Homo sapiens: one gene and its partners. The protein of the gene in region 2 purifies or fractionates together with the protein of the main gene of each other region. This does not show direct contact. Each region holds a gene or a part of one and is shown on either strand. Other genes may lie near its edges.

Region 1 (7,057 bases), on a different chromosome or scaffold from region 2:
TCTAGAGAAATAAACTGTTTTCCTTCCTGGTTATTTTCCTGTGCTGCAACAAACAGCCTGAAGAGCTGGTAACACCTTACATCCTTCTTCCTAGCCAAGATGATCACAACCCCAAAGATGGAATCATTTCAAAGAAGCTAATTTCCAAACTCTAAAATAGTTAAGTTGTATATATTGGCTCACTTGACCTTTATATTTACTTAACATTTCAGAAGTCTTCTAAAAGATCCCCCCATTCTCTACCTATTCTTCCACCTCCACAGCCCCTTCTCCTTTCCCTCCAGTGACTACACCAGATACTGAAGCCAAACCGAGCTAGCTATTTATAGAAATAGCATGGCTTTCCTCTCGCAGTCTGTACCCAATCTTGTCCCTATGCAAACTCAGTTATCCTCACAAGCTAAGACATAGGTGTCTTATTTATTTGACCCTCAGATGACTACACCCCAAAGGTCTTACCGTCGCCCTGTTCAGATGAAGGTCAGGATTGCTAGAAGCTTTTCTGTCAACTTTCTCCTATAATGGGATGAAAAGATTATCAGTGGATCCTGTCTCAATGTTAAGGACTGACATGCCCAACATGTCCTACGCCTCCTCTTTCTAGAGAAATGGAAGTTTCTTCCTTGCCAAAATGGTATTTATACCACAGAAGCAGTTACCGTATAACAGTGTGGATATCTTAGTCCCAAAACCTTAGGGATATAAGTGTTTTTGTATGTGTGAGACTTCAAAATATTATTATAATTTATCCATGTAGTAGTATTAAGATAGAATAAATCTTTATATAAATGAAATATGTGGGCCGGGCACAGTGGCTCACACCTGTAATCCCAGCACTTTGGAAAGCCAAGGCTGGCAGATCACCTGAGGTCAGGAGCTCAAGACCAGACTGGCCAACCTGGTGAAACACTGTCTCTACTAAAAATACAAAACTTAGCTAGGCATGGTGGCATGCACCTGTAATTCCAGCTACTCAGGAGGCTGAGGTAGAATTGTTTTAACATGGGAGGTGGAGGTTGCAGTGAGCCGAGATTGCACCACTGCACTCGAGCCTGGGTGACAGAGTGAGACTTCATCTCAAAAAAAATAAATAAATGAATGAAATAGGTGAAATCATTTTGATTTTTAAAAATTTAAATAGTGAAGTGCTGGTAATAAATGAAGAAAGGCTAGGATAGAAATGGTGTTCATTTAATGCATTTCCTCTGCCCATAAACCTAGCTCCAGACACATGCGGAATCATGTTTCTACATCCAAGTTCCCTTAAAACACAGATAGAAAACCAAATTCAGACTCTAACTAAAATAGATGGCCAGGAAAAGAATTTTTTTTAAACAGATAAAATAGATGGCCAGACACCACAAGACAGTGCAGACCATGTGCTGTGAAGCAACTGCTGGCTATGTTCATGACTATGCTTATTATATTTTTTTAATTCTCTTCATTACCTGGCGCATTGTAAAAGCACAAACAACATGAATTAAAATTGTTTAAATGGTTGGTTCAGATATGTTTACAAATGCAGGTCTGGGCGAAAAACTTCAGATTAAAAAGAGATGACCAGGCACGGTGGCTCACACTTGTAATCCCAACACTTTGGGAGACCGAGGCGGATGGATCACCTGAGGTCAAGAGTTCAAGACCAGCCTGGCCAACATGGTGAAACCCCGCCTCTACTAAAAATACAAAAATTAGGCGGGCATGGTGTGGCACGTGCCTGTAATACCAGCTACTTGAGAGACTGAGGCAGGAGACTCACTTGAACCTGGGACACGGAGGTTGCAGTGAGCCGAGATCGTGCCACTGCACTCCAGCCTGGGTGGCAGAATGAGACTCCGTCTCAAAAAAAAAAAAAGATTAAAAAGTGACTATTTAGCAGAAGCCAAATATAAAATGTTGAAGGAATATACCACACTATTCTTTAAAATGTAAACATTCACCAAATTAAGAAATTAGAGTAAAATATAATTGCTCTAAAAGTTCCGTGATTGAAAAAGGGCAGTTTAAAGTCAAAGGTAGAGTTGTGGGGAGAGTGGCAGGAGGGGGAGAAAAACCAATTTAAAAGGGCAGTCCCTGAATTGCAAACATGAACATACAGTAACTGTGTTCTTTATTCTACCACAGGGAGCAGAATAAGTAATGATAAGTTAAAAAGCAATTCTCTATATCAAGAGAAGCAAAAGAAGAAAGGTAAATATGAGAGCTAAATAAAAAGTGCTCAGAGGACCAATGTGAAGTCAGAAGCCAATTCTAATAATGAGAAAAAAGGCACTCAAAGTCTGAGGGAAAGCCCTATGCAAATGCCTATCAACATAAAAATGCTTGAAAACCTAAATAAATTTCTTGAAAACCTAAATAACCTAATTCACTTAATTCCTAGGAAATGACACAGAACAAGCTACACATTGTTTTCTCTTTTAGCCCATGGGAAATCCAGAGCCATAATATTACCTAACGGTTAATTTGGGGATAGCACTTAATTTACACTGAAGTATAAGTTTTCATTATTCTTTAAAATGAATGTACAAAAATATTAATAAGTATTATTTTAATAGACTTTTTTCCCATTAAAAAAGATGAACATGTTGAGGCAGCTCTGTGATTTGGTTATATATGTGTGTAAGAAACCCAGACAGGTCAAGGAGCTATCCAGCACCAATGCGACACGATGCAAGTGGTTCCTAACACTCAAGTTATAAGAAGTCAGTCATCTCTGCAGACACATCTTTGCAAAATCACAAAAATGAGATGCCAGCAAACACTGCCACTGCCCATGATGCTTGCTAAAGGGCCACAAAGAAGACTGAACAATGCTCTTGCTTCTGTTGTTGCCTATTCATCTGGCCTGGTGACCATAAGTACTTACTGCTTGGGCATAGGCACTGAGGGCTTGCTGGGAGATCTTAGGGTTCTGGCCAGTAGAGAAGTAAAGGGAAAGATATGAATTCCCAAGAATATCTGAAAGAGAAACACAGTGACAAATCATCTCAGAGTCCAAGTTCAAGATATGACTTATTTTGATCATTCTTGAAAGTATATTTGAAAGGTCCCACAAGAAATCCAAACCAGGAATGACACGATACTTAGTATACCCAAAACTCCACTAGGATAGAGCACCAAGGACACCAAACTGAAGTTTGAACAGACTGTACAAAAGCCCTTCCTTGCTTACGTGAAAACTAGGATCAAAAGATCGAAGAGTTCCTAGAAAAGTAGTTCCCCAAAATGTCTTTCGTGTGTCTTCAAAACAAAGATGCCCTCTCTGGCTTAAACCTCAGAATCACACTCAAAAGAGGGACTGCAAATGTTGCTCTGATTGAAAACATCTGCTCTAGAAACCTGTTGGAGATCTTTTGAGAGCACTCACACCAGGAGCGGCCATCATGGACATCCATCTGAACAGCCAACTTAGCCTGTCGGACACTGTCCATGACATGGTGAGAATGTTCATCTTCAGTGTCAGTCCGCAGCTGACGAAGCACCATTGACAGGTTTTGCAAGGAGACTTTGTTCCTGCACTGCAAATAGGAAGGGCACATACTCAATCTTCCTGATTCTACCTCCCCTTTCCAGATCTATTCTGAACTCAGTCTTCTAAATCTAATTTTTTACCTTTCTAAGTTTTTTGTTTTGTTTTGTTTGAGGTGGAGTCTTGCTCTGTCACCCAGGCTGAAGTGCAATGGCGTGATCTCGGCTCACTGCAACCTTTGCCTCCCGAGTTAAGTCTTTCTCCTGCCTCAGCTTCCCAAGTAGCTGGGACTACAGGTATGCACCACCATGCCCGGCTAATTTTTATATTTTTAGTAGAGACTGAGTTTCACCATGTTGGCCAGGCTGGTCTTGAACTCCTGACCTCAAGTGATCTGCCTGCCTCAGCCTCCCAAAGCGCGGGATTACAGGTGTGAGCCACCACGCCTGGCCGTATTTTTCTTTTTGTGACAGGGTCTCACTCTGATGGAGTGCAGAGGCACGATCTCAGCTCACAGCAACCTCCACCTCCTGGGTTCAAGTGATTCTTGTGCCTTGGCCTCCTGAGTAACTGGGATTACAGGCACATACAACCATGCCCATCTAATTTTTGTATTTTTTGGTAGAGGCAGGGTTTCACCATGTTGGCCAGGCTGGTCTCGAACTCCTGACCTCAAATGATCTCCCCACTTTGGCCTCCCAAAGTGCTGGGATTACAGGCATGAGTCACCACGTCTGGTCCATGTATATATATATATTTTTTTTTTTTTTTTTTTTTTTTGTAGAGACAAGGTCTCACCATGTTGCCTAGGCTGGTCTCAAACTCCTGAGCTCAAGTGATCCTCCTGCCTCGGCCTCTCAAAGTGCTAGGATTACAGGTGTAAGCTACCACACCCAGCCCTAATTTTTTCATCTAAATTCTTGCTGCCATCTGTATCTTCAACCCCCATCCACAGGGATCAGCTTAGCTGCTAGCTTTTCTTCACTTCCTTTCTCCCCCTGAACCTGATCCCATCATCATCTTCCTTTCCCAGGCCCCTGCCTCTATTTTCCTCATTCAGGTCTGCTCTCTGACCTTTCCTCCCTCCTGATTCTGTCCTAGTTCAATTTCAGTTCTACTCTGGTATTCATGTCCTAGGGAAACTCATAGAACCAAAGAAATTCATCCTTCCCATCTCTGCTTTCCAAAGGGATAGGGGGCAGCTCACATGGGTGAGGGCTCCTGAGAAGCAGGTGTGGGCAGCTGCAACATCCCCTTTTTTCCAGTACACCTCACCCAGCTGGTTCCAGGCTTCCACCAGCTCGGGCTCCAGCTTCACAGCCTTTGACAGAAGCTCCTCAGCCTTAGGGCTATAGTCAGGAGTCACATTTAGTGCTTTCCCAGTTAGCATTAGAACTTGTGCCTTGCCCTGGACAGAACCTAAGAGGAAGAAAAAAAGATAAAGTGGGAAAAAAACAAGTTAAAGACCAGGGCACTTTCTCTCAAAAAATAACTACACGTCAGTTTTAGGAATAAAAAGAGTTGGGGAAAATATTTATCAATAAACCATTTATTGAAAGCTCACCATAGGCAGAGTGTATGTTAGCTAATTAGGCAACAAAGAAAGCACTATTTCTAGAGCTTCTGCCATCTGTTTCTTGGGCCCCTATCTACAAGGATCAGCTCGGTTGCTAACTTTCCTAGAGGGGTTTACAATCTAGTGGAGAAGACAAAGCGTAAACATGGAAAATTAAAACCATGAAAAAGAGCATATGGCATTAGCCCAATGAATGGGCTTTAACAAGTGAAGAGAAGATGAGTCAGGACAAATAGTTATCGTTAAAACAAAACAGAGAGAGAGAAGAAAAGACCCTCCAGGTTAGAAAATGATATAAACAAAGACACAGAATCAGAAGTACATGTGGCCATGTTCATGGGAGAATAGACAGTTCAACCTGGATGAAACAGAAAGTTCCTCTACAAGTAATTAGTCAGAGATAAGGTTAGAAAACAGAGTAAAACAATGGACACTTAAATACCAGGTTAAGGGGGTTAGACTTCAGCTAGTCAATAGCAGGAATCTTTAAAGATACCTGAGCAAAAAGGCAGATGAGAGGATAAGGTTAAATGCATGAAGTAATGATTTAGAAAGATAGCCATGGCCATGGTATTATATAAGTGGATTTGAAAGTAAAAGAAATTAGAGGCAGAAAGTCAGATTACTGCAATAGTTCAAGTAAGTATGCTCTTTCATTTCATGCCATTTGCTATAATCAAATTTTAGGAAAAGTGGCTTAGGGAATGAAAGGTTGCACAGGGGCCCTGAGAAGTAGTATTACGTTGTACTACCCTATAGCAGTAACAGATAGGATACCAAAGAGTCAATGAGGAGGGAGCAAAGGTCAATCACATTTCACTGAAGGATGGGGGTTGTACAATCTCTAGGGCTCATACCCACTACTTCTTCCATCTGCTGTAGGGTTTTCTCCATCTCCTTCTGCACATCCTGTTGCTTCCTCCCAGCATCCTCAACACTATGTGTCTCGAAATAGCAGTCTCGAAATGAGTAGAGCTGATCCACGAGTTCCTAAAAAGTATGACAATGGAACCATTAAGTGGAAAGATCACTGGATAGGGAAACTTGAAATTGGCTAGCCATACCAGCTCTTGGTCTAGAAATACCAATTCTCTTTCTCACCTATGAATGGCACAATAGGCAGGTGGACAGGTTTACTAAAATGCCACAAATCATGAGGAAAAGCAGCCAGTACCCCAGGCCAGCTCTCATGGTCCCATGTTGTCCCATGCCAGTGTCTCTATTGTGATGACCATTTTCTCTCCCTGCCTCAGCAGGGCTTCTAATATGACTAAGCACTTCACATACCACAGTCATGAGGAGGGAAACACTGCAACTTAAGATAAACCAAAAGTTAGTAAGATCATTCTATATGGTCCTGGTCCTCAAAGAATAACACTTTGAAATTTACCCTTAAAGTTGGACTTCTCAACTAAAACCATTTTATCCCTGATTTTTCATATGCTGAGATCTGAAAATACAACACAACCTTTGTGAATATAATAAACATGTTAGAGAGTCATTGTTTTCCACCACAAACATACCAATTTGAACTTGGTAACTTTGGTATCTTTGCAGCATTTTGTTCTTTTAAATGCTTATTGTGGTTTTGTTTAGTTTGATTTTTTTGTCAAGTCATCTTCTGGCTGCCTTGGATTTTTTACAAATAAATATTCTCTTTCCTCTTAAATGCCTCTGAGTCTTCCTGTCACACCAGGCAAAGCTTTTCTACTACAGGTCAAGCATCCCTAATGCAAAAATCTGAAATCCTCCAAAATCTGAAACTTTTGAAACGCTGACACCACAAGTAGAAAATTCCACACCTGACACACAGTCAAAATGCGGTCAAAACGTTGTTTCAGGCACAAAATTATTAAAAATATTGTATCAAATTACTTTCAGCCTATGTGTATAAAGTGTAAATGAAACAATTTTTTTTTTTTCTTTTTTAAAAGACAGGGTCACCAGGCGTGGTGGCTCATGCCTGTAATCCTAGCACTTTGGTAGTCCAAGGCAGACGGATCATGAAGAGA
Region 2 (5,553 bases):
CTGAGGGGCAGAGTGGCCGTGTGTGTGCACGGAGGGCAAATGCTGTCTTCCAGGTTACTGTGGAAGGCTGGGTGTGTTGTAACCTTCTATGGGTCACGAATGCTGTGCAGAACACAGTAACACTCTTTCCCTTCTAAAATGTCCTGACCTTACACATTTGACCCACAGCTTTAGGGATTTCATGGACAAGCCCCATCCACAGACCTCAGATTTAAACACTCCATGTCTAGACTCTTCTTTGTAGCTCGCATCACCCATCAATAGAAAAGCCCCCAAAGTTGCAAATTCAGTTGAAAACCCTGACTGTGCTTTCCTAGAATTTAGGAAATCTATTTCTCCGTGTCAAGTTACTTCTGTGGCAGCTCCTTAAGTATGTACCATCCCGCTGCACCCAACTCCATGCTAGCAGGGCAGGCTGGCACCCCACCACTGTCCATGCAGGCTCTGGGGGTCCCACCTGCTCCTGCAGGCAAAGCTAGGCAGTACGATACACAGAGGTCTTGGTTTTATACAGAACCTTTAATTGCAAAGAACTTGAAAGCAGCCACGCTGGGGGTGGCAGTGGAGTGGAGAACCCACCACACCCTCCCCTCAGTATTCTTCACCTTCTTCAGCCTCGGCTTCCACGGAATCCACGCCCACCTCTTCATAATCCTTCTCCAGAGCTGCCAGGTCCTCGCGGGCCTCAGAGAACTCCCCCTCCTCCATGCCTTCTCCCACGTACCAGTGCACAAAGGCCCGCTTGGCATACATGAGATCGAACTTATGGTCCAGGCGAGCCCAGGCCTCCGCGATGGCCGTGGTGTTGCTCAGCATGCACACAGCCCGCTGCACCTTGGCCAGGTCTCCCCCAGGGACCACCGTGGGGGGCTGGTAGTTAATGCCCACCTGCCGGAGAAGAGGAAGAAACAGTCCATGAAGCTTATATCAAACCTGGAAATGGTGGCTGCTTTTCCTCAAAAAGAAGACACCCTGTAGGTGAACAGGAGAATTCTCAGTTCACCCCACAAATGTCACTAAGCCCTTCTCTGTGCCAGGCAGGGTGACAGTTCCAGACAACATATGTTGCCCAGGCTGGCCTCAAACTCCTGGGCCCAATCGATCCACCCACCCCAGCCTCCCAAAGTGCTAGGATTACAGTCATGAGGCAGCATGCCCAGCATTTTTTTTTTTTTTTAAGAATAAGGTATTTTCTAAAGGATTTTTGTGCCCCTTTCTTGGGTGGTAGAATTCATGTGGAAAAGGTAGGTTGAACTTAGTAATTTTATGGGCATTTTGGGGAATCTTGTAGGTGGTGTATATATTTTATTTTAACTTGGGCATTACTATAAACTGCTTCACAACATCATTCGTTCCACTGTCTCATGTAGGGTTTGATTTAAAAAAAGAATGAGTTGTTTGTGATGAAAACAGCAACAGGTGCAGTGGCTCACACCCATTATCCCAGCTCTTTGGGAGGCCAAGGTGGATTTCTTGAACTGAGTTTGAGACCAGCCTGGGCAGTATGGCAAGACCCTGTCTCTACCAAAAATACAAAAAAATTAGCTGGGCATGGTGTCATGCACCTGTGGTCCCAGCTACTCAGGAGGCTGAGGTGGGAGGATTGCTTGAGCCTGGAGGGCAGAGGTTCCAATGAGCTGAGATCCTACCACTCCTTGGGTGACAGAGCAAGACCCTGTCTCAAAAAAATTAAAAGGCCGGGCACGGTGACCCACACCTGTAATCCCAGCACTTTGGCAGGCCGAGGTGGACAGATCACGAGGTCAGGAGATCGAGACCATCCTAGCTAACATGGTGAAACCCGGTCTCTACTAAAAATACAAAAACAAAATTAGCCGGGTGTGGTGGCGGGCGCCTGTAGTCCCAGCTACTCGGGAGGCTGAGGCGGGAGAATGGCATGAACCCAGGAGGCGGAGCTTGCAGTGAGCCAAGATCACGCCACTGCACTCCAGCCTGGGCGACACAGCAAGACTCCGTCTCAAAAACAAAACAAAACAAAACAAAACAAAAAGCAGCAACGTCTTTATTTCTTTTCCGGGAAGCCTAGTAATTTTGGCCTGGGTTTGCCTCAGACACAAAATCTGTCCCCACCTTCCACTGACACAAAAGAAACCTTGCTGTCCTCTTTCAGCTTTATCAATAGTTGGTTACTAAATCTTGTGGCATTTCTCTGTTGGGCCTGTGCGTTCTTGTGCTGTGCTTTCCCTGCTGCCTCTGGCTCAGACCCCCACCGTCTCTGTTGGGGGAGACCACTGCAGTCAGTTCTGACTGGGATTTCCTACTGTGGGTGTCTCTTCTTCTCCTTCAGGGGTTAGCACAGCTGCTGGACTAGCCACCTAATTTTGTAAGATCTTGTCTGAACACAGCCACCACACCCCTTCATTTGCAGATTGATTTTGCTATCCGACAGCAGAGTGGGGTAGGTGTGACAGAGGTCGTGTAACCTGTAAGGCCTAGAATTTGTATGATCTTGTCTTTTTTTCTTTTTTTGAGACAGAGTCTTGTGCTGTCACCCAGGCTGGAGTGCAGTGGAGTGATATCTTCTCACTGCAACCTCCACCTCCTGGGTCCCAGTGATTCTCCTGCCTCAGCCTCCTCAGTAGCTGGGATTACAGGTGCCCGCCACCATACCCGGCTAATTTTTGTATTTTTAGTAGACACGGGATTTTGCCCTGTTGGCCAGGCTGGTGTCAAACTCCTGACCTCAGGTGATCCGCCTGCCTTGGCCTCCCAAAGTGCTGGATTATAGGCATGGGCCACCATGCCCATCCAATTTTTGTATTTTTAGTGGAGAGCTGTGATCACCACACTGCACTCCAGCCTGGGTGACAGGTGGGATTCTGTCTCAAAAAAGTAAATAAATAGGGTTGAGCACAGTGGCTCATGCCCGTAATCCCAACATTTTGGGAGGCTAAGACAAGCAGATCACTTAAGACCAGGAATTTGAGACCAGCTTGGCCAACATGGTGAAATCCCTTTACTAAATACACAAAAATTAGCTGGGTGTAGTGGTGCATGTCTGTGGTCCCAGCTACTCAGGAGGCTGAGGTGAGAGAATCACTTGAGCCTGGGAAGCAGAGGTTGCAGTGAACCGAGATCACACCACTGCACTCCAGCCTTCTCAACAACAAAGTAAGTAAGTAAAGCTCATCACAGATACATAGTGTAATGACTTAGAAAGAGTTCAAAAGACATCACTGGGCCAGGCACAGTGGCTCACGCCTCTAACCCCAGCACTTTGGGTGGCCAAGGTGGGTGGCTCACCTGAGGTCAGGAGTTCAAGACCAGCCTGGCCAACATGGCATAACCCTGTTTCTACTAAAAATATAAAAATTAACTGGGTGTGGTGGTGGGTGCCTGTAATTCCAGCTACTTGGGAGGCTGATGGAGATTGCAGTGAGCTGAGATCACACCACTTTACTCCAGCCTGGGCGACAAAGCTAGACTCTGCCTCAAAAAAAAAAAAAAAAAAAAAAAAAAAAAAAAAAGACATCACTGAATTAATGATCACTCTGGTTCACTAATTGATGCCCACATGCCTAGCCCATGGAATAGGGGTAGTATCCTCAAAGGATGTGGGCCTTCAGGGGCAGCATTACTCTGTGTGTCTGTTGCTTGCTGAAAGGTACAAGGACTCCACATTACCCAGTCATACCTTAAATCCAGTTGGGCACCAATCTACAAACTGGATGGTGCGCTTGGTCTTGATGGTGGCGATGGCCGCGTTGACATCTTTCGGGACCACATCCCCCCTGTACAACATGCAGCAGGCCATGTACTTGCCGTGGCGAGGGTCACACTTGACCATCTGATTGGCTGGCTCGAAGCAGGCATTGGTGATCTCAGCCACGGACAGCTGCTCGTGGTAGGCCTTCTCGGCTGAGATGACCGGGGCGTAGGTGGCCAGGGGGAAGTGGATGCGGGGGTACGGCACTAGGTTGGTCTGGAATTCCGTCAAGTCCACATTCAGGGCCCCGTCAAATCGCAGGGAGGCCGTGATGGAGGACACGATCTGCCCAATCAGGCGATTGAGGTTGGTGTACGTGGGACGCTCGATGTCCAGGTTGCGCCGACATATGTCATAGATGGCTTCATTGTCGACCATGAAGGCACAGTCAGAATGTTCCAGGGTCGTGTGGGTGGTCAGGATGGAGTTGTAGGGCTCCACCACGGCCGTGGAGACCTGGGGGGCTGGGTAAATGGCAAATTCTAGCTTGGACTTCTTGCCGTAATCCACTGAGAGCCGCTCCATGAGCAGAGATGCGAACCCAGAGCCAGTGCCACCCCCAAAACTGTGGAAGATGAGGAAGCCCTGCAGTCCCGTGCACAGATCCGCCTGAGGGAAACCAGACAACATGAATCAATGCCCGTGGAAGCCACACCACCAACCTCCACCAAGCCAGGGCCACTTCTCTGCCTCTGAAGACTTGATATGGATTCCAATCATCCATAATAAACACGCAGTACACTCTGAAGCAAAGAAAAGCAGACAAAGATCTACAGACAAATCACCATGCATACTTCAGACTAAGACCATTGCAGACGCAATAGGACTCAAGATACTGTTCTAAGTTGTTTTTTTTTTTTTTTTTTTAGATAGAATCTCACTCTGTTGCCCAGGCCGGAGGGCAGTGGCATGAACTCCGCTCAGTGCAACCTCTGCCTCCCGGGCTCAAGCCATTCTCCTGCCTCAGCTTCCTGAGTAGCTGGGACTACAGGCAGGCACCACCACGCCTGACTAATGTGTGTATTTTTAGTAAAGACAGGGTTTCACCACGTTGGCCAGGCTGGTCTCAAACTCTTGACTTCAGGTGACTGCCCACCTTGGCCTCCCAAAGTGTTGGGATTACAGGCGTGAGCCACCAGACCCAGCCAACGCACTGGTCTAGGTTTTGACAAAATGACCTCCCCTTCACAATCTAAGATCTACCCTCCTGTGCAGGACAATGGTCACATGAAGCCTTCTCTTCTTACCAGTTTGCGGATCCGGTCCAGGACCAGGTCGACGATCTCCTTGCCGATGGTGTAATGGCCTCTGGCGTAATTATTGGCCGCATCTTCCTTCCCGGTGATCAGCTGCTCTGGGTGGAAGAGCTGCCTATAGGTTCCTGTGCGCACTTCATCTACAAAAGAGACCGTATGTACTGTGAATCTTTAAGGCCTATACTCACCAAGATGGACACATTCCAGGACTGTTCACTTCTACAAAGTACATGCTGTTCAAAGTACATGACCTACATGTTGTAGGTCAACAGTGGCAGTGTCTGGTAGAAAATGTCTCTGTGTGATAACCAAAGTGCAAATGTGTGATAACCAAACTGTGATTTATGACTCTAGGAAGTGAAACTCAGCTTACAATATAAATGTCAGCACGACCAGCTCCCAGTGAAGGGAAATAAGCTCCAGCACCCCCACACAGGTAATTCTACAGGTACATAATTCTTTCCTACATGTAGCTACATCGAAGGCTGTAAGTTAAAAATGCTTACAAACTGAGAAGTCACCAGGTCAGTGTGACTTCTGCAGGGCAGTCCCATCAGGGCACCCTGTGTG
Region 3 (7,696 bases), on a different chromosome or scaffold from region 2:
AAACATGAGTCCGTTTTTGTTCTCATAGCACCTACACTTGCCATGTTCTCACTTTTGGTTGCATTGTTTTTATTTTCTTAATCTCTGATCTTGGTTATTAATAGGACAGTCAGCAAAGATTTTATCTGATCAATACAGCATAGGATACCCGTATGTTGGTAGAGTCAAAGAATGCTGTAGACCTAAATGTTACAGTGAATCCAGTTAAAATTCTACCAGTCTGGGCAACATGGCAAAACCCCATCTCTACAAAAAATACAAAAATTAGCCAGGCATGAGGCACATGCCTGTAGTCCCAGCTACTGGGAGGCTGAGGCCGGAGGATTGATTGAGCCCCGGAGGTCGAGGCTGCAGTAAGCTATGATCATGTCACTGCACTCCAGCCTGGGTGACTGATCAAGACTGTCAAAAAAAAAAAAAAAAAAAAGAGAGAGGGAGAGAAATGTAGGGGTGGGTTGCCCCTCCACACCTGTGGGTGTTTCTCGTAAGGTGGAACGAGAGACTTAAGAAAGAAAAAGACACAGAGACAATGTATAGAGAAAGAAATAAGGGGACCCGGGGAACCAGCGTTCAGCATTATGGAGGATCCCGCCAGCCTCTGAGTTCCCTTAGTATTTATTGATCATTCGTGGGTGTTTCTCCGAGAGGGGGATGTGTCAGGGTCACAAGACAATTGTCGGGAGAGGGTCAGCAGACAAACACGTGAACAAAGGTCTTTGCATCGTAGACAATGTAAAGGATTAAGTGCTGTGCTTTTAGATATGCATACACATAAACATCTCAATGCTTTACAAAGCAGTATTGCTGCCCGCAGTTCCCACCTCCAGCCCTAAGGCGGTTTTTCCCTATCTCAGTAGACGGAACATACAATCGGGTTTTATACCGAGACATTCCATTGCCCAGGGACAGGCAGGAGACAGATGCCTTCCTCTTGTCTCAACTGCAAGAGGCATGCCTTCCTCTTATACTAATCCTCCTCAGCACAGACCCTTTACGGGTGTCGGGCTGGGGTCTTTCCCTTCCCACGAGGCCATATTTCAGACTATCACATGGGGAGAAACCTTGGACAATACCTGGCTTTCCTAGGCAGAGGTCCCTGCGGCCTTCCGCAGTTTTTGTGTCCCTGGGTACTTGAGATTAGGGAGTGGTGATGACTCTCAAGGAGCGTGCTGCCTTCAAGCATCTGTTTAACAAAGCACATCTTGCACCGACCTTAATCCATTTAACTCTGAGTTGACACAGCACATGTTTCAGAGAGCACGGGGTTGGGGGTAAGGTTATAGATTAACAGAATCTCAAGGCAGAAGAATTTTTCTTAGTACAGAACAAAATGGAGTCTCCTATGTCTACTTCTTTCTACACAGACACAGTAACAATCTGATCTCTCTTGCTTTTCCCCACAGAGAAAGAAGAAAGGAAGAAAGAATAAAGAAAGAAAGAAGAAAATTTTAAGTTTATACCTTTTAAAAAAGGAAACTTAAAAATCAGTAAGTTTTAATTTTTAATAAGATAAATAATTTATTCTATCAAACATCACCAATGTCAGATCATTTCAACATTATTTCTAACTTTTCAAAGTACATAGCATAAACCATAAAAGTTGTCTAACTGAAATTAAATCTTCGTGAGAGATAGTTTTAATAGACTGGGTTTTTAGCAGTGAAGTTAAAGAATGATAGTTTAGTATACAGAAAGAAACAGTTATGGTGACACTTAGTTCTTCATGATGCACTGTAAGCACAAATTGGACATCACATGATAAGTAAAAAGGATGGTCCTTCTGGCAAATAAAAATTAAATAGGTCCTCACAGTGATATGCAGTCTCCAAACATGATCTGTCTAATTTCTCTCTCTCACCCAAAGTAAAAAGTTAAGTTGAAAGATTAAAACCTGCCTTCTTGTTACTATTTCACAAATACACCCAGATAGTACCAGATTAGTGACTAAAATCCAGATATTTTCCTTTTAGATAAATTAAGCCATATACATTGTAAAATACTTATTTTTTAAGAGAATCAATAAAGCTATATTTATTTTCAGTAGAAAATGTGGCTCATAGACACTTTATTTCTCTGAAATTGCCTCTCAAGAAAAAACTTGATCCTCACTATTGATCTAAGAGAAATCTGCATGAAGCAATGCTGTAGTTTATGCTTTTTTTTTTTTTTTTTTTTTTCTCAAAGGTGGTGGGTGACCTCTGGAGGCAACTGGAAAAAATATACTGCTGCTTTCAAGAGTGAAGTGGGGAATGAAGAATCAGAAAGTAGATCTTTCCATTTAGAGAAGGCTTTTTCTTTTTTTTTTTTTTACATTTAATCAGGGTGAATTAAAATATTTAATTTAAAAATGGCTTTACTGAACCTCAATTCAGTTAGGTAATTAATCAATTCAGTTAGGTAATAGCTACTAAGTATGTAATACAATGTTAGGGGAGAGACATATAACATCCATAGTTTCAATCTCATTGAGTTTATAATCTACTAAGGAACTGAAGATAAGTGCTAAAAGAACTGTAACACGAGGTAAAACCTGTGACAAGATTTAGGAGCAGCACAACTATATAGTTGTGAAACTAAACCAGCCTCAAGGCTGAAAGGCAGGTGAGAAAAGACTACCTACCAAAGTAGGTTTTGTTTGTTTGTTTGTTTGTTTGTTTGTTTTAACATGGATTCTCCAAAGATAGGTAGAAAAGTCCTGGTTTGGCGTCATTAGTCTACTTCAGCCCCTCTCTCACTGATTACGACTGAAAGACTCATGACAAAATACAAATGGCAACTACCTGCCGCCTCTGAAAAGTAAATAAAGAATTGAGGTAGGGAGTCAAAACTTAGAAACCTGCAAGGGGATGAATTTCCTGGCTTTTTTCTTCTTTTCTTGTGGTTTGTCCTGAGGAGAGACCCCAGCTGGGAACTGTTGGGTGGCATGGGTAGCTAAAACTCGAATAGAAATCTCATCTTTCTGTGCTGAAAGGAAATAACGGTTAGCCCAGAACTCTATTTTCAGTGAAAATATTTTCAGGAATCAAAGTGAAATAAAGACATTCTCATATGAAGGAATGCCAGCTGACCTGCTCTAAAATAAATGCTTGGCGGGCCGGGCGCGGTGGCCCACGCCTGTAATCCCAGCACTTTGGGAGGCCGAGGCGGTCGGATCATGAGGTCAGGAGTTCGAGACCAGCCTGACCAACATGGTGAAACCCCGTCTCTACTAAATAAAAAAATTAGCCGTGCGTGGTGGCACGCGCCTGTAATCCCGGCTACTCAGGAGGCTGACGCAGGAGAATCGCTTGAACCTAGGAGGCAGAGGTTGCAGTGAGCCGAGATCGCACCATTGCACTCCAGCCTGGGCGACAGAGCGAGATTCCGTCTCAAATAAATAAATAAATAAATAAATAAATAAATAAATAAATAAATAAAAAAGAAATGCTTGGCGGGGCATGGTGGCTCATACCTGTAATCTCAGCACTTTGGAAGGCCAAAGGCAGGCGAATCACTTGAGGTCAGGAGTTCGAGACCAGCCTGGCCGACATGGTGAAAACTCGTCTCTACCAAAAAGCGCCACAACACTCCAGCCCGGGCGACATAGGCTCTGTCTCAAAAAAGAAAACAAACAAACAAAAAAAAAAGTGGGGGTGCGGGTGGGGGGAAGACTTAATGACTAAACGAATAAGTCTGGAGAGACGGGTTGCAAGGGATGATGAGACTAAGGTTTGTAGTCTGGGAGCCTAAGTGGATGAAAGTTGGAAGAATCAGGTGGAAAAGAACATTTCAAATAGACCACAAAGAAAAGTATATAACATTTTGAGGCTGTGGTACGCTTTGTTAAAGAGCAAAAGGAAAACAATTCCTCAAATCAGGGGGGAGGGATAGCATTAGGAGATATACCTAATGTTAAATGACGAGTTAATGGGTGCAGCACACCAACATGGCACATGTATACATATGTAACTAACCTGCACGTTGTGCACATGTACCCTAAAACTTAAAGTATATAAAAAAAATTCCTCAAATCGATGCCACGCTCCACTTCTTTACAACGATGGAATTATTTCAGGAATTGGAATTATTTCAGGAATTGTGTTTGAAACCACAGCTTTGGATCCCGATTTCTTTCTTGAGCTACTGTTACACTGTTTATATACGGCCACTAATTCGATGACTGAGCTTGGGCAGATTGTTAATTATTTTCTATGACTTAATCTTTCTATCTGTACAACGGGGATAACGTGGAATTTGGAGTGTTGTGAGGGTTGAGATAATATACGTGATAACTTACACAATGACGTTCAACAAATACTTGTGGAGTGAAAGATGCGCGATTCATTGACAGATCTCAGGGATTTCAGAAAGCTGTATAAGGACCAGCTCTTCAGGCTCCCTTCGCTCCCCAGGAGACCGGGGAGCCGGCGCGAGGCGCTACAGTGTAATTCTTGGCCCCTTTTCCTCATAATGGTTTGGCCGCATTTTTACCTCTTGATTTCCCTGGTCCCAGGCTGCAACTTCAGCTCGCTCCGCCATGGGGCGCACGTCCGCCAGCCTCTGTGAGCTCAGCTAAGTATGATGCCTAGGCTAGAGAGCTACGTCCGGTCTCCTAGGCAACCATATCAACTTCCGGCTTGAGGCACGATAGCGGTTGGCGAGAGGCCACATTTCCGCCACGTGACCCGCGCATGCGCCTGCTTGCTGGAGAGCGAGCGTCTTTTGCCACGAACACCTGCGGCGTGCCGAAGTTCCTCTTCTCTGCCCCGGTTCCGGGCGGTCCGCTGGGAGGTGGCGCCCGGAGGGACACCCGTGCCTGGGGTCGGGGCCAGTGCTCTTCTCGGAGCTCCAGAAGTTCTGCTGAGAAGCGCGGCGGCAGCAAGACGACTTCTCCGGAGCCGCCGAGCTGGAGTTAGAGGTGGAGCTCCGTGGGGCCGGGCCCCCGGCTGCGGGGCAGCGGCTCCTGCAGGCGGAGGCCCCGGCGGAGAATGAGCCGGAGCCGGAGGTGGTGGTGGTCTCCTGGCAGAGCGGTGGGACCGGGAGCAAGCTGCGGTGGTTCACCACCTTGATGCTGTGTGCCTCCTTCCTGGGGCTGGTGAGAGCCGGGGCTGCAACACTCCCAGGCCGGGGCGTTCGAGTCTTGCCTTCGCCACTTGCAAACTGACCTTGGGCGCGTTACCTAATCTGACTGGGCCTCAGTTTCATCATCTAGAAAATGGGCACAATTCTAATCTTGGAGGAAATAGATTTTCTGAATACGTCTTTCAGCTCCAGCAAGCTTTTTTTTTTTTTTTTTTTGACGGAGTCTCGCTCTGTTGCCCAGGCTGGAGTGCAGTGGTGCGATCTCGGCTCACTGCAACCTCTGCCCCCAGGGTTCAAGCGATTCTCCTGCGTCAGCCTCCCGAGTAGCTGGGATTACAGGCGCCTGCCACTAAGCCCGGCTAATTTTTGTATTTTTAGTAGAGACGGGGCTTCGCCATGTTGGCCAGGCTGGTTTCAAACTCCTGACCTCAGGTGATCCGCCCACCTCGGCCTCCCAAAGTATTGGGATTACCGGCGTGAGCCACGGCGCCCGGCCCGGCAAGCCTTCCTACGTCTCCTTCGTCGGATGGGAAGGTTGCAAGAGGGGTTCACCAGGTCTTTGGCCGCTGCTCTCCGCACCCACCCACTCAACCCCCAAATTATTACACAGAAAAACTACTTTTCTGGAATTTCTTCCTGGTGATCTGACCAAATTCAGCCAACCGCTTAATTTTGCAGATAAGGAAATAGGCCCGGAGGGGAAAGTGACTTTCTGGATCACACAGCTGGTTAAGTGATAGAGCCAGAAATATGTCTTTTACTCTGCCCACCATCCTATTTATTAATAAAACCAACCTTTAGATTCTTAAATGTTTTTCTTGGAGCAAAGGGCAAGCCTAGAGGCGCCTTTTGCCAAACCCCTGGGTCGCCACTCAATTCACTTTTCGGAAACCTCCTCCTTATCACTTGATAATTATGATCCTGGGGGAGTTGAGAGGATGAGTCCTCCCAAGAGTCATGTGTGGTCACTTACCATCTCAGGGACTCTGAGCCACAGTTGTTTCTTAGAGTATTTTGATTGGGGGCGGTGGGGAGGGGTGAAGAAAGAAATCACTTCAGACTTTTGGTGAGTCGTCACTGACTTGTCCGGTCCTGTTGTAAATCCTTTGAAGACATGAACTAATTTGATTAGATTCTGTGCTCAGGCTTCTCTCGAAGTACGAGGTGCTTGCTGTGCACCTGGGCCCATAGTGGTCCGTGGTCTTGGACTGTTACGAGTTGGGCAGGGGGCGCACCCCATGCATTTAGAGCAGAGCAGGGCAATTAGAATCAGTTATTCTGGAAATGTAGACTGATTGGAAACATTTTTTTCTTTAAATGTCCAATGAATTTCCTCTGAAAGTCAATTGTAATCCTTACCTCTTGCTGACACTGCATTGAGTAAAGTTTTATTGTTAAAGTCATTCTGTACTTGGGCGTGTAATATTTTTTAAGCAACCTTTACTGACTAATTCTGATGGCGTGGAAGAAAAGTGTAGATTTAGAAACATTTAAATTGTTTATCTCCTGTATGTTTTATATGTATAGTTCAGGGGAAGGACTCCATGTGCATCCAGAAATATTGCTGTTTAACAACATAAAAAACAGGAATCATATTTTGATGTTTTGATCAAGGTTTTGACGTTTTCCAGTGGCTCAGTCAGAACTCACTACAGTCTCGACCTCAGGGCTTAAGCGATCCTTCCATCTCAGCCTCCCTAGTAACTGGGACTACAGGCATGCGCCACCACGCCTGGCTGATTTTTTTCATTTTTATTTTTGTAGAGATGGGGTTGCCTAGGTTGATCTCAAAACCCTGAGCTCAAGCAGTCCTACCATCTCTCCCTTCCAGATTGCTGGGATTACAGGTGTAAGCAACCACACCTGACTTAATTTAATTAATTAATTTATTCTTTCTGAGACAGAGTCTCGCTCTGTCGCCCAGGCTGGAGTGCAATGGTGCAGTCTCGGCTCACTGCAACCTCCGCATCCCGTGTTCAAGCGATTCTCCTGCCTCAGCCTCCCGAGTAGCTGGGACTACAGGCGCCCACCACCATGCCCAGCTAATTTTTGTATTTTTAGTAGAGATGGGGTTTCACTGTGTTGGCCACGCTGGTCTCAAACTCCTGACCTCGTGATCCGCCTGCTTCGGCCTCCCAAAGTGCTGAGATTACAGGCGTGAGCTACTGTGCCCGGCCAATTTAAATTTTTAATACCCAAATTCTTATTTGTGCATGTAATATATTTCAAAATGTACGAAACCATTTCAAAAATAGTTTTAATATTACATTTTATTAATACAGAATAGTCTTTTAAAGGTATTGTTCAGAAAGGAAACAGGATTGCAACAAAAAAATAATTTTTTAAAAACTGAGAGGTGTCAAAACAAAAAAAAAATAAGAGTTTTAGTCAAAACTAAAAAAACAGTAGTCTAATTCCCTACATTACATTGTAAATCCCAGACCCTCCGCCCCCCTTTTTTTTTATAGTGGAAGAAACTACCACATAGTTAGACATTATTTTAATGATTATAAGTAAAAACTTTTGTCTTTTTAAATTTTAGGGATTGAGTGTTGCTATAGTGGGACCCACGTTTCAAGATTTGGCAACAAACGTGAACCGAAATATCAGTAGTCTGTCTTTCATTTTTGTGGGT
Region 4 (7,000 bases), on a different chromosome or scaffold from region 2:
GCAGAAGCGCCCCTCACCTCCCGGATGGGGCGGCTGGCCGGGCCGGGGGCTGACCCCCCTACCTCCCTCCCGGACGGGGGGACTGACCCCCCCCACCTCCCTCCCGGACGGGGCGGCTGGCTGGGCAGAGGGGCTCCTCACTTCCCAGTAGGGGTGGCCAGGCAGAGGCGCCCCTCACCTCCCGGACGGGGCGGCTGGCTGGGCGGGGGGCTGACCCCCCCACCTCCCTGCCAGATGGGGCGGCTGGACCCCCACCTCCCTCCCGGACGGGGTGGCTGCCGGACGGAGGGGCTCCTCACTTCTCAGACAGGGCGGTTGCCAGGCAGAGGGTCTCCTCACCTCCCAGACGGGGTCGCGGCTGGGCAGAGGCGCTCCTCACATCCCAGACGGGGCGGTGGGGCAGAGGTGCTCCCCACATCCCAGACGATGGGCGGCCGGGCAGAGACGCTCCTCACTTCCTAGATGGGATGGCGGCCGGGCAGAGAAGCTCCTCACTTTCCAGACTGGGCAGCCAGGCAGAGGGGCTCCTCACATCCCAGACGATGGGCGGCCAGGCAGAGACGCTCCTCACTTCCCAGACGGGGTGGCGGCCGGGCAGAGGCTGCAATCTCGGCTCTTTGGGAGGCCAAGGCAGGCGGCTGGGAGGTGGTTGTAGCGAGCCGAGATCACGCCACTGCACTCCAGCCTGGGCACCATTGAGCACTGAGTGAACGAGACTCCGTCTGCAATCCCGGCACCTCGGGAGGCCGGGGCTGGCGGATCACTCGCGGTTAGGAGCTGGAGACCAGCCCGGCCAACACAGCGAAACCCCGTCTCCACCAAAAAAATACGAAAACCAGTCAGGCGTGGCGGCGCGCGCCTGCAATCGCAGGCACTCGGCAGGCTGAGGCAGGAGAATCAGGCAGGGAGGTTGCAGTGAGCCGAGATGGCAGTAGTACAGTCCAGCTTCAGCTCGGCATCAGAGGGAGACCGTGGAAAGAGAGGGAGAGGGAGACCGTGGAGAGGGAGAGGGGAGAGGGGAGAGGCGAGAGGCTATGTACATTTTTAAAAGCTTATTTTACCTGCCAGTAAGCAGGTAGTACAAGCAATTTGTGCAAAAGGCTTTTGACAAAAAGAATATTTACAATACTCTCTTTATACTTTTTCTAGAAACAAGCTTTTTTGTGTGTGGGTTTGCATCTATGTATATGTTATTTTGTGTGTGTCTATTAGAAAGTAAAGACAAATTTTATTTGTTTATTTATTTTGAGACAGAGTCTCACTCTATCACCCAGGCTGGGGTGCCTGGGCACAGTCTCCACTCACTGCAACCTCTGCCTCTCAGGTTCAAGCAATTCTTGTGCCTCAGCCTCCCAACTAGCTGGGATTACAGACACCCACCAACACACCTGGCTAATTTTTGTATTTTTGGTAGAGACAGTTTCACCATGTTGTCCAGGCTAGTCTCAAAACTCCTGGTCTCAAGCGATTTGCCTGCCTCGGCTTCCCAAAGTGCTGGGATTACAAGGTGTGAGCCACCATTCCCAGCCAGAAAGTAAAGACAAATTTTAAAAGAAGGAGATGTTTTACCAATAATCCCTTATCCAGAGGGTAAATTGTGTACATTTTCTTTTTTTTTTCTTTTTCTTTTTTTTTTTTTTTTTGAGATGGAGTCTCACTCTGTGGCTTAGGCTGGAGTGCAATGGCACGATCTTGGCTCACCACAACCTCCGCCTCCCTGGTTCAAGCGATTCTCCTGCCTCAGCCTCCCGAGTAGCTAGGAATACAGGCATGTGCCATCATGCCTGGCTAATTTTTGTATTTTTAGTAGAGATGGTTTCACCATGTTGGCCAGGCTGGTCATGAACTCCTGACCTCAGGTAATCCATCTGCCTTGGCCTCCCAAAGTGCTAGGATTACAGATGTGAGCCACCACACCCAGCCTTAATTGTGCACATTTTCTAATTTTAATTTTTTATTTTTTTGAAACAGAATCTTGCTCTATTGCCCAGGCTGGAGTGCAATAGTGTGATCACGGCTCACTGCAGCCTTGACCTTCTGGGCTCAATGAGTCCTCCCAGCCCAGGTTCCCAAGTAGCTACAGGCACATGCCACCATACCTGGCTAATTTTTGAATTTTTTCGTAGAGACAGGGTTTTGCTATGTTTCTCAGGCTGGTCTAAAAATTCCAGAGCTCAGGTGATCTGCTCACCCTAGCCTCCCAAAGTGCTGGGATTACAGGTGTGAGCTACCGCATCCAGCCCTGAATATTCTTTCAGAGGTAGGGTTTTGTGTGTTTTGTTTTTAGTTCAAGCAGTTTGACTACATCCTAAGGTATAAAGGTACTAATAAACAAGTCAGTTTTTCTTTTGTGCATTTTTCTTTATTTTAGAGCCTTCAGGGAAATTTTTTTTTAGAAAGATCAAGAGAAGGCCAGGCGTGGTAGCTTACGCCTGTAATCCCAGCACTTTGGGTGGCCGAGGTGGACAGATCACCTGAGGTCACGAGTTCGAGACCAGCCTGGCCAACCAACATAGTAAAACCCGTCTCTACTAATAAAGTACAAAAGTTAGCTGGGTGTGGTGATGCATGCATGTAATCCCAGCTACTTGGGAGGCCGAGGTGGGAAAATCGCTTGAATCTGGGAGGCGGAGGTTGCAGTGAGCAGAGATTGCGCCACCGCACTCCAGCCTGGGCGACACAGCGAGACTGCTTCTCAAAAAAAAAAAAAAAAAATCAAAAGAATAAGTAAGCCCTAGAATCAGTCTTTCATCATTTTATTTTTTGAGATAGGGTCTCACTCTGTCACCCAGATTGGAGTGCAATGGTGCGGTCATGGCTCATTGCACCCTCAACCTCCTGGGCTCAAGTGATCCTCTTAACCTCAGCCTCCTGAGTAGCTGGGACTGCAGGCTCATACCACCACACTAAGCTAAATTTTAAATTTTTTTGTAAAGACAGGGTCTCACTGTGTTGCCCAGGCTGATCTTGAATTTCTGGGATTACAGGTATGAGCCACCATGCCTAGCCTGGGCAACAAGGATGTTTTCTGTATAAATTGCCGTCTTATACAATGTGTAGAATTTGGAATAGTATGAATGGCCAAATGTCATACCTTTTGGGAGAGTCTGATTTAGGAGAGTATTTTTTGGAAGAATAATTAAGTTACTTGCCTTGATATCCAGATGCTTTAAATATTACTATGGTGCTTGTATCTTTTTCAGCAGGGGAAATGCTGTCTGTAGCTGAGCACTTCCTGGAGCAGCAGATGCACCCAACAGTGGTGATCAGTGCTTACCGCAAGGCATTGGATGATATGATCAGCACCCTAAAGAAAATAAGGTATCTTGGGGGCAAGAAATAGGTAGTATCAAATATGAGAGGCCTGGCTAGACGTGGTGGCTCATGGCTGTCATCCCAGCACTTTGGGAGGCCTAGGCGGGTGGATCTTGAGGTCAGGAGATGGAAACCATCCTGGCCAACATGGTGAAACCTCGTCTGTACTAAAAATACAAAAAATTAGTTGGGCATGGTGGCGCATGCGTGTCGTCCCAGCTACTTGGGAGGCTGAGGCAGGAGAATTGCCTGAACCAGGGAGTCAGAGGTTGCAGTGAGCTGAGATGGCCCCACTGTGCTCCAGCCTGGTGACAGAGCAAGACTCCGTCTCAAAAAAAATCAGCTGGGTATGGTGGCGCACACCTGTAATGCCAGCTACTCAGGAGGATGAGGCAGAAAAATTGCTTGAAACCAGGGGGCGGAGATTGCAGTGAGCCAAGATCTCTCCACTGCACTCCAACCTGAGCAACAAGAGCGAAACTCCCATCTCAGAAGAAAAAAAAGAAAAGCATATATTACCTCTAGCTTCAGGGAATTTTAGTTAAGGTTTAACATCACGTAGAGTCATGTAGAGCAGTGTCTTGAATAAAAATTTTTGTTTAAAAAGTAAAACCTGGCAGGGCTCGGTGGCTCACGCCTGTAATCCCATCACTTTGGCCCAGGTGGGTGGATCACGAGGTCAGGAGTTAGAGACCAGCCTGGCCAACATGGTGAAACCTCGTCTCTACTAAAAGTACAGAAAATTAGCTGGGCATGGTGGCAGGCGCCTGTAATCCCAGCTATTCAGGAGGCTGAGGCAGGAGAATCGCTTGGACCCGGGAGGCGAAGGTTTCAGTGAGCCGAGATTGTGCCACTGCACTCCAGCCTGGGTGACAGAGTGAGACTCTGTCTCAAAAAAATAAAAAGTAAGACTTGGGCTGGGCATGGTGGCTCACACCTGTAATCCTAGCACTTTGGGAGGCCAAGGCGGGTGGATCACCTGAGGTCAGGAGTTCAAGACCAGCCTGGCCAAGATGGTGAAACCTCATTTCTACTAAAAATGCAAAAATTAGCCAGGTGTGGTTGCATGCGCCTGTAATCCCAGCTACTCGGGGGGCTGAAGCAGGAGAATCACTTGAACCCGGGAGGCGGAGTTTGTGGTGAGCCAGGATCGCACCATTGCACTCCAGCCTGGGCGAACAACAAAACTCCATCTCAAAAAAAATAAAAATAGGGCTGGGTGCGGTGGCTCACGTCTGTAATCCCAGCACTTTGGGAGGCGGAGGCGGGCGGATCACGAGGTCAGGAGATTGAGACCATCCTGGCTAACATGGTGAAACCCCATCTCTACTAAAAATACAAAAAAATAAGCCGGGCGTGGTGGCAGGTGCCTATAGTCCCAGCTACTTGGGAGGCTGAGGCAGGAGAATGGCATGAACCCGGGAGGCAGAGCTTGCAGTGAGCAGAGATTGCACCACTGCACTCCAGGCTGGGCGACAGAGCGAGACTCCATCTCAAAAATAAATAAATAAAAATAAAAATGTATATTTTTTCCACGCCCAACTGGAAATAGTTTTTTTTTTCTTTATTTAAATATTCTACTCATATGGTTGAGTCACTAGATGCATAAGTGTTTAGTAATTTGGTGAGGTTTATATTATACTGCCTGCTCTTTTTTTTTTTTCTTGAGACGGAGTTTTTGTACTTGTTGCCCAGTCTGGAGTGCAATGAATGGCGCGATCTCGGCTCACTGCAACCTCCACCTCCCAGGTTCAAGTGATTATCCTGCCTCAGACTCTCGAGTAGCTGGGATTACAGGCATGTGCATCCACATCCGGCTAATTTTGTATTTTTAGTAGAGACAGGGTTTCTCCATGTTGGTCAGGCTGGTCTCAAACTTTCAACCTCAGGTGATCCACCCACCTTGACCTCCCGAAGTGCTGGGATTACAGGCGTGAGCCACCGCGCCTGGCCATATACTGCCTGCTCTTAAACAAGTTGTACATTAATATCTTTGTCTGGCACACTTAAGAATGAGGTGTTTGATCTAATTATTTTTATGCAGTAAGCTCTGTGAGAATGTAGAGGTACCCAAAGGTTTTATTGTGTGGAGCTTCACGCTTAGAAAGCCTTTTTTTTGAGACGGAGTTTCACTCTTGTTGCTCAGGCTGGAATGCAATAGCTGGATCTCAGCTCACTACAACCTCTGCTCCCTGGCTTCAAGCAGTTTTCCTGCCTCAGCCTCCCGAGTAGCTGGGATTATAGGCATGTGCCACTACGCCTGGCTAATTTTGTATTTTTAGTAGAGACGGAGTTTTTCTCCACATTGGTCAGGCTGGTCTCAAACTCCCGACCTCAGGTGATCCGCCTGCCTCGGCCTCCCAAGGTGCTGGGATTACAGGCGTGAGCCACCGTGCCTGGCCTGAAATATTTTTTTTTTTTAATCAAGTAATAACTGCCTACCTAGAACACTTTAATCTTATTAAAAAAATTTTTTTGGGGTGGCGGGGGGTCTCGCTCTGTTTTCCAGGCTGGAGTGTGCAGTGGCATGATCTCGGCTCACTGCAACCTCCGCCTCTTCGGTTCAAGCAATTCTGTCTCAGCCTCCCAAGTAGCTGGGACTACAGGCGCATACCACCACACCTAGCTAATTTTGGTATTTTTAGTAGAGATGGGGTTTCACCATATTGGTGAAGCTGGTCTCAAACTCCTGACCTCAGGTGATCCTACCACCTCGGCCTCCCAAAAAAATTATTTTTTAGAGATATGGTCTCACTCTGTTGCCTAAGCTGGAGTGCGGTGGTGCAGTCACAGCTTACTGCAGCTTCCAGCTCCTGGGCTCAAGCAATCCTGCCCCAGCTTCCCAAGTAGCTAGGACTATAGGTATGTCCACCACGCCCTGCTAAATTTTTCATAGAGATGAGGTTTTGCTATGTTGCCCAGGTTGGTTTTTAACTCTGGGCTTCCAGCTATCCTCAGTCTTCCAAAGTGTTGGGTTTACAGGCGTGAAGCATGGCACCCAGCCCCCTTTATCTTAGATACCATTTTTGGAGTCATTGCTTCTTCCCAAAAGTCCATAATTCAACCATTTAATAATTGGTATATTATGTGCCTTTCACTGTTAAAAGAGGGATTTTGTTTATTTTGGGGTTTTTTTGAGACGGAATCTCACTCTGTCACCCAGGCTGTCGTGCAGTGACATGATCTCAGGTCACTGCAACCTCTGCCTCTGGAGTAACTGGGACTACAGGCACATGCCACCACTCCTGGCTAATTTTTGTATTTTTAATAGAGATGGGGTTTCACCATATTGGCCAGGCTGGTCTCGAACTCCTGACCTCAAGTGATCTGCCCGCCTTGGCCTCCCAAAGTGCTGGGATTACAGGCGTGAGCCACCGTGCACAGCCAAAAAAGAGATTTTAGCATTATGTGAAAATATCTTGTGAGGAGTGAAAGTAATATAAAAATGGTAAATACATAAAATGTGTTTACAGTAACATAAAAACACAAAGATGACCAGTTGGTGGTCATCTTTGACCACTGTGACACACCATGAGCTAAAAATAAAATTTGCTGTTCAAATGAATGATTTGATAAAACTCTTAAAGTTGGCTAGTTATGGGATAAAGTTTCATAAAAAAAAATGTGTCTTGACCTGAGTTGTAAAAGTTGAAAAGTTTACTTGGTTGAAGCAGAAGATAAGGAA

What was found.
Region 1: the proteins of TUBA3C (region 2) and TTC5 purify together in Homo sapiens (affinity purification with mass spectrometry, with the first as the bait; 3 studies listed by BioGRID). This does not show direct contact.
Region 3: the proteins of TUBA3C (region 2) and SLC60A2 purify together in Homo sapiens (affinity purification with mass spectrometry, with the first as the bait; 3 studies listed by BioGRID). This does not show direct contact.
Region 4: the proteins of TUBA3C (region 2) and CCT3 purify together in Homo sapiens (affinity purification with mass spectrometry, with the first as the bait; 3 studies listed by BioGRID). This does not show direct contact.

The regions. Positions count from the first base shown.
Region 1 is NC_000014.9:20,295,931-20,302,987, forward strand, and holds part of TTC5 (tetratricopeptide repeat protein 5), read right to left. Parts: intron 6,036-7,057; coding exon 5,903-6,035; intron 4,889-5,902; coding exon 4,677-4,888; intron 3,519-4,676; coding exon 3,368-3,518; intron 2,959-3,367; coding exon 2,867-2,958; intron 517-2,866; coding exon 460-516; intron 1-459. UniProt on the Homo sapiens protein: Cofactor involved in the regulation of various cellular mechanisms such as actin regulation, autophagy, chromatin regulation and DNA repair.
Region 2 is NC_000013.11:19,173,272-19,178,824, forward strand, and holds the end of TUBA3C (tubulin alpha-3C chain), read right to left. Parts: intron 5,124-5,553; coding exon 4,975-5,123; intron 4,337-4,974; coding exon 3,656-4,336; intron 889-3,655; coding exon 592-888; 3' UTR 501-591; downstream 1-500. UniProt on the Homo sapiens protein: Tubulin is the major constituent of microtubules, a cylinder consisting of laterally associated linear protofilaments composed of alpha- and beta-tubulin heterodimers.
Region 3 is NC_000006.12:111,254,654-111,262,349, forward strand, and holds the start of SLC60A2 (sodium-dependent glucose transporter 1), read left to right. Parts: upstream 1-4,685; 5' UTR 4,686-5,047; coding exon 5,048-5,074; intron 5,075-7,603; coding exon 7,604-7,696. UniProt on the Homo sapiens protein: May function as a sodium-dependent glucose transporter. Potential channels for urea in the inner medulla of kidney.
Region 4 is NC_000001.11:156,321,293-156,328,292, reverse strand, and holds part of CCT3 (T-complex protein 1 subunit gamma), read left to right. Parts: intron 1-3,203; coding exon 3,204-3,321; intron 3,322-7,000. UniProt on the Homo sapiens protein: Component of the chaperonin-containing T-complex (TRiC), a molecular chaperone complex that assists the folding of actin, tubulin and other proteins upon ATP hydrolysis.